Linked DNA regions of Homo sapiens: region 2 is linked to region 1. Evidence: fine-mapped expression QTL. A gene starts in region 1. The other region holds a variant in brackets. All regions are shown on one strand. Distances are from middle to middle.

Region 1 (5,222 bases):
AGTGTCTTTTCAATATCTGAAAGTCAATTAATGTAACACACCACATTACTAGAACAAGGAAAAAAACCCATGATCATCATCTCAATGGATGTGGAAAAATCATTTAACCAAATCTGACACGTTTTCATGATAAACACACTCAACAAACTAGAAATAGAAGATACTTCCTCGGCTGGGCGTGGTAGCTCACGCCTATAATCCCAGCATTTTGGGAGGCCCAGGGGGGTGGATTACTGGAGGTCAGGAGTTCAAGACCAGCCTGGCCAACATGGTAAAACCCCATCTCTACTAAAAATACAAAACTAGCTGGGCGTGGCGGCCTGTGCCTGCAATCCCAGCTACTCAGGAGGCTGAGGCAGGAAAATCGCTTGAACCTGGGAGGCAGAGGTTGCAGTGAGCCAAGATCCAGCCACTGTACTCCAGCCTGGGTGACAGAGTGAGACACTATCTCAAACAAACAAAAAATAGGTTTTATCAGGTTGAGGAAGTACCCTTTTTTTTAATGATTTTTAGACAGTTTCCCTTTTTTAGCTGGGATTACAGGCACCGGCCACCAACCTCAGCTAACTTTTTGTATTTTTAGTAGAGATGGGATTTCTCCATGTTGGCCAGGCTGGTCTCAAACTCTGGACCCCACGTGATCCGCCCGCCTCGACCTCCCAAAGGGTTGGGATTACAGGCGTGAGCCACTGTGCCCAGCCTGATAAAACCTATTTTTTAAGCACCCACAGCTATCATCATACCCAAAGGTGAAAGACTGGATGCCTCCTCCCTGAAATCAGGAGCAAGACAAGGATGTCCACTCTTGCTGCTTCTAGTCAATATTGTACTGGAGCTTCTAGATAGGGCAGCTAGGCAAGGAGAAGAAATAAAAGGCATCCAGATTAGAAAGGAAGAGATAAACTGATCTCTATTCACAAATGACACGCTTTTGTATAAAATCCCAAGGAATCCACTAAAACACTAGAACAACTAATAAATGCCACTAAAAGACAAGAAGAACTAATAAATGGGTTTAGCAAGGTTGCAGGATAAAAGATCAGTACACAAAAAGCCCTTAGAGTCACACTTGACCTTTCCGGGTCACACTCCACATCCCATATAACAGTAGATGGCCTCCTGCCTCCTCCTCAGCCCTTCCTAGTCTGTTCTTCACCCAGGAGTCAGAATGACCCTTTTAAAGGGTTAGTCATATCCTTCCGTGTGCTCAGTCTTCCGAAGGCTGCCCATTTCCTGCAGAGAAGGGGCCACAGTTCTGACTGTGCAGGACCTGTCTGCATCCCTCCATGTCCCCACCTCCCATTTCCTACCAGTCCTTCCAGCTCCTGCGTTCTCGACTTAGTGGCCTCTACTGTGTTTCTTACACTCCAGGCTCTCGTGTCTCAGAGGCTCTGTCTGCCGTGCTCCTTGCTCAAGACAGTACTTCTGCAGATATCCTTACCCTCGACGCCCACGTCCCGCCGGTCTTTGCTCAAATAAGTGCCCTCCTCCTATGGCTTTCCTTGACCGCTCTGCCCTGTCCACCTCGTGTTCTTTTCAGACGGCTGACTCAAGAAAAAATAGACAATCTCAACAGACCTATAACAAGTGAAGAGACTCAATTAGTAACCAAAAAACTATGAATCAAATAAGTCATCAAAAAAGCCCAGGCCCAAATGGCTTCAAGGTTGAATTGAAGCCTGCACGTGGGTTGGTATGTGAATGACGGACTGCCTGGGTCCTCTGGGCACCTGGCATTTCATACATGTTCCGCCTCTGGCACGGGGTGTCTCGACCAGGTACAGACAGGCTGGGAGCCCCGCGCCGGGCGCCCGCTCCCTGGAAGCTCGACCTCTCCCTGCCGTCAAGGCGCCGGTGGGCGGCACGTGGGCCGGCTCTCCCGGGGGCAGTTCTCTATTTCGCTGGTGAGGTTCTCAGACCAAATCCTCGGAATGCAAACTCTCACGGCGTTCCCGTAATTCTCAGCCCAGCGCGGGCCCCGACGCAGGCTCCAGGGGAACGAAGTCAGCGTCCCTTCCGGGGGATGCGCCGGCGGGGCCGCACCTGTTTCTGCCTCAGGGGTCCAAACGCCCACCTTCCCTGCACCGGGACGGGGGTCTGGAGACTGGCACGTCCACCTGGTGCCCGTCTGCTGGGCTGTCGCCTGCCGAGGTCGCCGCCGGCCACACCCACGAGGTCCCCAGGGCGCCGGCGGCGAGACCTCGGCCGGCCAGGGGGCCGGGCTGTGGCTGAGGTGGGACGAGCCAGGGCCGGGGAGGAGACACGGCGCTAAAAGAGGGCAGCTGCGGGCTCGGCAGGATCCCCGCCGCCGACCCACTCCACCCACCCCGCGCCGCCCACTCCCCGCTGCCTACGCCGCGCTCCACACCGCGGGCCTTAGAGCCTGAGGAAAGCAACGGGGCAGGCGCGGACCAGGGCGGGTCCTACTGCGCCTGCGGAAGCGGGCGGGGAGGGGCGGGTCGACGCTCACTGCGCCTGCGGAAAGGGGCGGGGCAGGCACAGGCCTGCGGGTGCCACCTACTGCGCCTGCGGAAAGGGGCGGGGCGGGCGCGGGCTGGCGGGCGGTGCCTACTGCGCCTGCGGAAAGGGGCGGGGCAGGCGCGAGAAGGGAGCGGAGCTGGGGGCGGGGTCGAGGGCGGGGTGGCGGGCGGTGCCTACTGCGCCTGTGCGAGGCCCCGGCGGTGAGCGCGCTCCCGCTCCTTGGCCACCGCCTCAGCCGCTGTCGCCGCCGCCGCCGCTCACCCGGGACCGCGCACGCGCTGCCACCGCCCCCGGCCCGCTCCCGCCCCCGCGCCCGCCCCCGCCCCCGGCCCGCGCCCTCCTGCCGCCGCCTCTTTGGGCCGCGGGCTCGGCACCTCCTCCGCTCGGGCTCAGCGCCCGCAGCATGCAGCAGCCGCGGGGGCGGCGACGGCGGCGGCTGTGAGGTGAGGCGGGGGCCGCGCTCGGGCGCCCCTCCCGGCTGGCCGGCTGCGGGGCCGAGTGGTGGCTCGGGGCGCACCGGGCCCGGCGCGGCGAGGGGCGGCGGCGCCTTTGTTGCGGCCGGGCCGCCGCCTCAGCCCTTTGTCTGCAGATGGTGGACGCGAGCGGCCGCGCCGCCGCCGAGGGCTGGAGGAAGATGGAGGCCCCGCCGGACGGCGCCGCCGACCTCGTGCCCCTGGACCGCTACGACGCGGCGCGCGCCAAGATCGCCGCCAACCTGCAGTGGATCTGCGCCAAGGCCTACGGCCGAGGTGGGCCGGGTGAGGGGCGCGGGGCGGGGGCCAGGGGCGCGGGCCGGGGCCGGGGGACGCGGCCGGGGTCCGGCCGGGTCGGGGTCCGCGCGCCGCGCCTTTGTGCCGCGTCCGCACAGGGTCGGGGCTGGGCCGGCCGCCTCCGAGGTCCTGGCGGCGCCCGGGCAACGCGGAGCGTGGGGACGCGGTCACCTGGCGAGTGGGCGTCCCTGCGGCGGAGGGCGGCGTGGGTCGGGGCTTCCGCTCCTATTTCGGGAGTGCCCCCAGCCTCCCGTTGGCGGCGGCGGCGGCGGGAAGGAGCTGCCCGGTTCTGGGCGCAGGGAGGGACCATGGGGACGCGGGGCCGCCGTCTGAGGCGCCGCTTCCCGGCGCGCCGGGCATCGTCCAGTGCTGGACCTGTGATTCCGAGCCTTGCACTTGTTATGAATTTTGATGCTTACAAGCTGTCAGCTGTTGAATTCCCCAACTAGAAATTGCGTATTCCGCGCATTGTGCTTAATCATAATGATCCCCTTTGGTTAATTCCTGTTTGGAAGAACTAGGTAACCTTGTTACTCAGTCCAGTTTGTTAGGCCCTAATGTGCTTAGTGGATTAAGACGCTTCTGTTTCGTGCCCTGGGAACAGGACAGACCTAGTGATTCTCGTCAGTGGCTGACTTCTTTATTAATTTCAGGTGCTTTGTTTCAGGTACAATTAAAGGTTAATATTTCTGCAATCCTCTTTTCATTTGAAGCATTCTTAAAATATTTGCCTTTATTCTGGTGAAAAATTACCCTTTTTAGAGTAAGACTAAAGGAGACAGCCCTTCCAGAGAAGAGTTCAGTTGACCAGTTTGGAAAACGCTGAGTAGGCGTTGCCCTGTTTGACAGTGGCCTGTGCCCCAGCTAGACTCGAGTTAGTCATAAGGACAAACGCGTTTTGTAAGTTTTAGGGATTAAATAACTCGCCTTATTTCAAACTGGTTTTTGTACTGTGTAAGTAGTAATTGGGAAAGAGTTTTTCCTTTGACAGTTTTCAGTTTTACAGTTCTTGTTTACTGGCTCAGTGGAACCTTAGTTTCTGTGTTGTAATGAGGAAGAAACACTGCTACATCCAAGACTTCACATGAGTTTTTGAGAACGGAATTGGTAAGATGTAGGTATGAAACTTGAGTCAGGTGCAAAGAACAGCCCGAGAGCGGACGCCTGGGTATCTTGCAGTCACTGCCGGCTGCGTGGGCTCACCTGCCTCACACCTTGTGTTAGTCACTGTTTTGCTTTTCTTTGTATTTTGCCGCATGTGCTTACACCACGAACTAGTTTTTACACCTTTGCCAATGATGTCTCTTTCTGAGACTGGCTTTTGTTATTCCCTTATCCCACGTTACGTTCTTAGGTTCTTCTTGACTTCATCTTCACTTTTCCACATTTCCGCTGCTGTGGAGTGTCTCACTGAGGACTGTTCACCGCAGCTGCTCGTGGGCGCTGGCTGGGCTCCCGTAGGTGCTGTGGAGCCCAGTGCATTCTTGGGCATGGCTCCTGGGATCCGAGCACAAAGTTTTACTCCTGCATGTTTTTTAAGATTTTATATGTGGAGAGGGCTGAGGGCTCAGGCAGCGGATGTTAGACAAATTGCTATAAAAAGAACTTTCACGATCTGCTTTCCAATTTCTTTAGCAAGGTGCATGCATTTTTTATTTCATTGCATTTAGCTTTGGCATTCAGCATGGGATTTGTCAGCCATCCAGAAATAAGTACGCGTGTCTCTGTGTTAGTATTGGGTTCGTCTAGTTTCACTTCCGGTACCAGGTCACTCTTTAATCCTTGTTGACTCATCGGATGATGAATTCACAATCTGATACTAACATGGGCTTTTGAGTTCTGGAATTATTAAAAGGTGGGCATTTAAAGAAAAGAAACATGAACAGGAGCTGGAGAAGACTGGACACCATCTTAGGAGCTGAGACTGGAGTGCCCCTTACTGGTGGGTGACAGTGCCTTCGCACATCAGAC
Region 2 (5,222 bases), 93 kb after region 1:
ATAAACAGAAAAAAACCACTCCGTTGGAGATGTCTGGCCTTTTATGCTTAAATACTTAAGTGTGTATTTCCTAGAACGAGAATGTTTTCTCGTGTTACCAGTTACCAAGGCAGCACTTTCATCCGATTTGCGGTCCCCATTCAGCTGTCCTCAGTTATCCCAAGAGTGTCCCTGACAACTGTGTTGTTTCCGAGTCCAGGATCTGGTTTGGGGCGATGAATGGCCTTGAAATGCCATGTCCCTGTAGTCTCCTTCGATCCAGAGCAGTTCCTTAGCCTTTCTGTGTTTTTCTGGACCTTGACTTTTGGTAACCACAGGTCAGTTATCCTTCTGGCTGCCTCTCAGTATCGGCTTCCTGTGATGAGACTGAGGCCTCGCGCTGCTGATTGAGCAGCCCAGAAGTGAGTGTGCGTCTTTCTCAACGCAGCCTCTCAGGTGGGCCCCGGGACCGCTCCTGTGATGAGAAAGTAACTTCAGGAGAGAGGCTGGGGACTGGTCTGGACCTCACGGAACTGTCCCGCAGGGGCTTTAGTGACCACCATGGAGCTCCTGCTCACCGCTTCCTCCACGCGTGTTGTCAGCTCTCGTGGGAGCAAGGGCTTCCCTTGCCCATGTGTCCCTTTATTTTTATATGCACAGCGTGTGGCTCCTGCTCTGTGTGCACCTGTGGGCCGTGTTTTCTTGTCTCTTCACCCGTCTCATGGCTCCTTGTTGTCTCTGGGCTTTGTGGCAGATCCCTCCGAGGGACTGCAGATTCTGTTTGGGTTTTTGTTCTGGTGGTCAGTTACCCTGGCTGGATTCAGACTCCAGCTCTGTCTGCCTCCCTTGTGAGAGCAGCAGCCGACATCTCTGAGCAGCTGTGTCCAGCCTTTCGGCATCTGTTGTGCTCAGTGGAGACTTCCCTGCAGGGTGGAGCTCAGGCCTTCCAGGGATCAGCGTCACTGGGACCCAAGTTTTCAGACTCGGCCTGCTGTGGCCCCTCCTTCCCTAGGTCTCATCCCTGGCTGGGCAGCAGCACAGGTGGCCCAAACTTCATCCTCTGGCTTCCTGAGCCAGCAGCACTGTGCCCTGTGCTGTGCCTGTGCCCTGCTCACGGGGGCAGTGCCTGGAGCAAGGGCTTCGTGGAGGTGAACCCCTTCGGTGAAGGGCTGACTCCCCTCTGTCTGTCTTCATCACTCCCTAGTGCCTGAAGTGTTTGCTTTTGTATTTTGCTCGGAGTGTCTGTACTGTGTGGGAGTTGTGGCAACTCGAGCCCCCACCGTCACCGAAAGCCTCCTCCCCTGCTGATGTGCTTCCTGTCCTGGTTGCGGGCCAGCCCCTTGCCAGCAGTGGTGAGAGGAAGCCAGCGCTTCACCTGCCTGTCTCTTGTCTGTTTCTGCCTGCAGAGTGGAATCGATGGAAGCCCTGCCCATACTGAGCCGTAACCCAAGCAGGAGCACAGACCGAGACTGGGAGACCGCGTCGGCGGCATCTTCCCTGGCCTCAGTGGCCGAGTACACAGGTGACGGCGTTCGCCCTCCTTAGAGGTCATCGTGGGCATGGCCATACGCCTTTGCGTGGCTCTTTCAATATCTGTTCTCTATTTTGGTCTAAAAAGTATTTTTCTAACAAAGATGTTTGATGTAGTGAAAGAGAGCTAATTTGAGCTCTTTGGTGCTGAAATGGGCATGTGGTTTAGTAGAAGCTCTTAGGCCTGCCTTGCCCTCCTGGTCATCTGCCCTGCTGTCTGCTGTGCAGGGGGCAGCGGACCTGGGGGCAGCAGAGCCCGGGAGTGGTGGAAGTGCTTGGCTCTCACCAGCTGCCCTTGGAGCAGGCGTGGGCTCAGGGCACAGTGAACTGGAGGTGCTGCTGTGGCTGAGGTGTATGTCCCGGGGCCTTTGAACTTTAGACTTTTTACAAGTTATTTACCTGGTTTTGTCTTTTTTTTATAGTTAAGACACTGAATTTAGAAAGGGGATAAATTATTGATTACTTTGTCTTTAGTTGTCTAAAAATTTATAACTTAAAATTCTTTTGAATAAATTTAAGTGGTTTTTACTTCCCATTTTTAAATAATCATAAATATCTGTAATTCAGCCTACCCATTGCTTGCTTCTAAGACATTGCTGGTTTTCTTTTTTGTGTGTGTTCGTGCCTTAAAATAATAATTTTACCAACCCTGG[C/T]CTCGTTTCTTAGGTCCCAAGCTCTTTAAGGAGCCCAGTAGTAAATCAAACAAGCCGATTATTCACAATGCCATATCCCATTGCTGCCTGGCTGGAAAAGTGAACGAACCCCACAAGAATTCCATATTGGAGGCAAGTATCATGTTTCAACCTCAGTTTTTATGTGGAATAAAAAGTGTTTATAAATTAAGGGTTCTTTTTAAAAGAAAACACCCCTAATCTTTGATGCATGAGAGTTACTAGGGAGAATGCAGATTTCAAGGAAGAGGCCGTTCCAGGCAGGTGGGAGTGAGGAGTGCCAAGGTCCAGGGGCTGCAGTGAGCCTGTGCTGGAGGAACACCCAGGAGGACGGGGCAGGGTTCAGAGGCTACATCCTCATGTGGTGCCTCTGGGCTGAGGAAAGACATAGTTCTACTCAGTGAGATAGTGGATGCAGGTGTGGGCAGAGGAGAGCCAGGAACCCACCTGCCCTTCCCAGTAGATCAGAGCAGTCAGCAGGGAAGCCAGGGAGGCAGCCTGGAGGTGAATGAGGAACAGGGGCCAGGGCTGGAGCGGTGGGTTGGGGAGGACCGAGGACGGAGGACGGAGTGGTGGGTTGGGGAAGATGGAGTGGGGAGGGAGGGAAGAGGCGCGCACCCGCTGAGCGTGTGGACTCCGGAGCACCCAGTGTGCATGCCCAGGGAGGGGCTTGGAAGCAGGAATCTGAGGGTCCTGCACGGGGTCTAGGCTGGCCCCTGAGGGGCAGGACTGGGATTCCAGGGGAGAGGAGGCAGAGCCACTGGACCCTGCCCCAGATTGAGGCTGGTGTGTGGCCTTAAGTTGCTGGCCTTGGGATACAACGGCTTGTGAATGAGTGAATGAAAATTATGCAACAATCTGTCATCCACCAGAAATTCTGCTTTTTAATAATTAAGACTAACCCCTGGTCCTTAGTTGGTTTAGTTGTAAAAATTAAAGTGACATACGGAATTTCTGACCCACTTTAAAACGGATGTGTTCTTTTCTTGATAGTGAAGATCATCTAGACTAAGAATGGCCCCGACCTAGGCAGGTCTCGTGGCACTGGGGACAGAAGAGGCCATGGTCATGCCCTTCCTGCTTAGATTTCCACACGGAGAGGTGGTTGGCCCCCTGTATCAGTGGCCCCCAGGATCACCCTGCATGCGGAGATGCACTGGAAGGACTCGTGGCCCTCAGTGTGGAGTCGACCCAGGGCTTAGATTTATTCCAGCACTGTGGAGGGAGCCACAGCCACTGGGTGAAGAGGGAGAAGACAGAGGCGGGGCTAGGCCTTGTGCAGCTCCCTCTGCTCTCGTTCTTCCAGCAGTGGATCCACAGCAGCCTGTGGGCCATGGAAAGCCCTTTTGAGACTGGATGCCCTGAGCTCTCCTTGGGGGCTGGTCACAAGGCACACTCCCTGCCCAGTGTGCAGCAGTGTGCCTGACGCCTGGGAGGAAACCAGCGTCAGCGTGCAGACCAGCAGTTCAGGCTCAGGAGGCCCTCCTGTCTTGCCAGTGAGTGACTGGGAGCGAGCTCTGCAGATAGCAAGTTCCCAGGTGCCCACCAAGGGCCGCCCAGCAGGCAGGCCTTTCTAGGACAGCAGCCCTCTCAGCTGTGCCACATAAGCTGTGGGCACCACACGCTTCCTTATCGTGCAGGCAGCAATAAGTAAATAAGATGAACCCCACTCCCCACAGTCCCGCTGTCGCTACAAATTAAATGTTTCTTTCTTTTTGGCATCTAATTCTGTTCATATTTAAACACAGTGAGTAGGGTTGAAATCAGTATTATATAGACAGTTTTGGATTCTTTTAAAAAATACGTATTATTTAAAATAATAAACCCCATTATATGCTGATACATTGCATATTTATGAAAAGTAACTTTTCTAAAGCCAAATAAATAGAAGAGTGGCATTGACATAAGAGGGCTGGCATCTCAGCCGCTCGGGCCCTCCGTCCATTACAACCACACAGCCCAGGGCCTTGGGAAGGTTCTGCCGCACACTTGGGAGAGGCGATGAGGCCTTAGCCTTTCGAGGTCGAGGGCTTGACCCTGAGATTCCTGGGAAGGCCTCAGGATGCCTGGGCCGCATGTGGAGAACTGTGAGGGCAGACCCAGGTGCACTCCCATTCCCAGGCGTGTGGAGGGTTTGTTTTTAAAAGTTACCAAAACACTTGAAGATACGTTTTAAACTTTAAAATACAATCAACAAACGCGGCGACAGGCATCAGCAGTTTGTCATACTTCAGATTCTTCTTTTTTTTTTTTTTGAGATGGAGTCTCACTCTGTCGCCCAGACTGGAGTACAGTGGTGCAATCTCAGCTCACTGCAACCTCCACCCCTCCAGACTCAAGCGATTCTCTGAGTAGCTCGGACTACAGGCATGTGCCACCACGCCTGGCTAATTTTTGTATCCTTAGTAGAGATGGGGTTTCACCATATTGGCCAGGCTGGTCTTGAACTCCTGACCTCAAGTGATTCGCCCACCTCAGCTTCCCAAAGTGTTGGGATTACAGGCGTGAGCCACAGCGCCCGGCCCAAACAGCTTTATGAGATATCATTCACATACCGTAAAATTCACCCTTTTAAGTTATACCATTCAGTGGTTTTTAGTACATTAATAGAGTAGCACAACCATCACCACCGCCTAATTTCAGAGCATTTTCATCCTCATAAAAAGAAACTCCACGCCCGTGAACAGTCACCCCCCTAAGTCTTCCCGCGCCCAAGCTCTTGGCGGTCGCCAGTCTGTCTCCATGGATTTGCCTGTTCTGGGCATTTACATAACTGGCATCATAATTATATGGCCTTTTGGGTCAGGCTTCTTTCACTTAGCGTGATGCTCTGAGGTTTCTCAGTGTAGTGTGTACCGGACCTCCATTCCTTTTTGTAGCTGGGTAATGCTCCATTGCATGCTCCGACCCCATGCTGTTCATCTCGTCATCTGCTGATGCACACTTGGGTTGATTCTTCTTCAAACATTTTTTATTGATAGGGAACAGATGTGCATGCTTTTGGGGGTACATGTGATATTTTCGTTTCTACTTTTTGCCTGT

Evidence for each region. PIP is the estimated chance that this variant, and not a neighbour inherited with it, causes the effect. A credible set is the group of variants that fine-mapping cannot tell apart.
Region 2: its variant is the best candidate, but not a certain one, in a credible set for the expression of CAMSAP1 in whole blood (INTERVAL, PIP 0.89).

The regions. Positions count from the first base shown.
Region 1 is chr9:135,905,008-135,910,229 of GRCh38, reverse strand. CAMSAP1 (calmodulin regulated spectrin associated protein 1) reads left to right here and starts at 2,684. Exons shown (of 17, transcript NM_015447.4): 1 at 2,684-3,230. The coding sequence starts at 3,071. CAMSAP1-DT (CAMSAP1 divergent transcript) reads right to left here and starts at 2,397. Exons shown (of 2, transcript XR_007061860.1): 1 at 1,311-2,397. RefSeq lists silencers at 2,116-2,795, 2,836-2,945, 3,026-3,095, 3,496-3,545 and an enhancer at 4,192-5,222.
Region 2 is chr9:135,812,169-135,817,390 of GRCh38, reverse strand. It overlaps CAMSAP1 (calmodulin regulated spectrin associated protein 1), which reads left to right. Exons shown (of 17, transcript NM_015447.4): 15 at 1,386-1,501; 16 at 2,176-2,294. Among named protein-coding and RNA genes, the nearest start is that of CAMSAP1, 93 kb to the left of the region's middle. The variant C/T (reference allele first, on the strand shown) is at 2,163.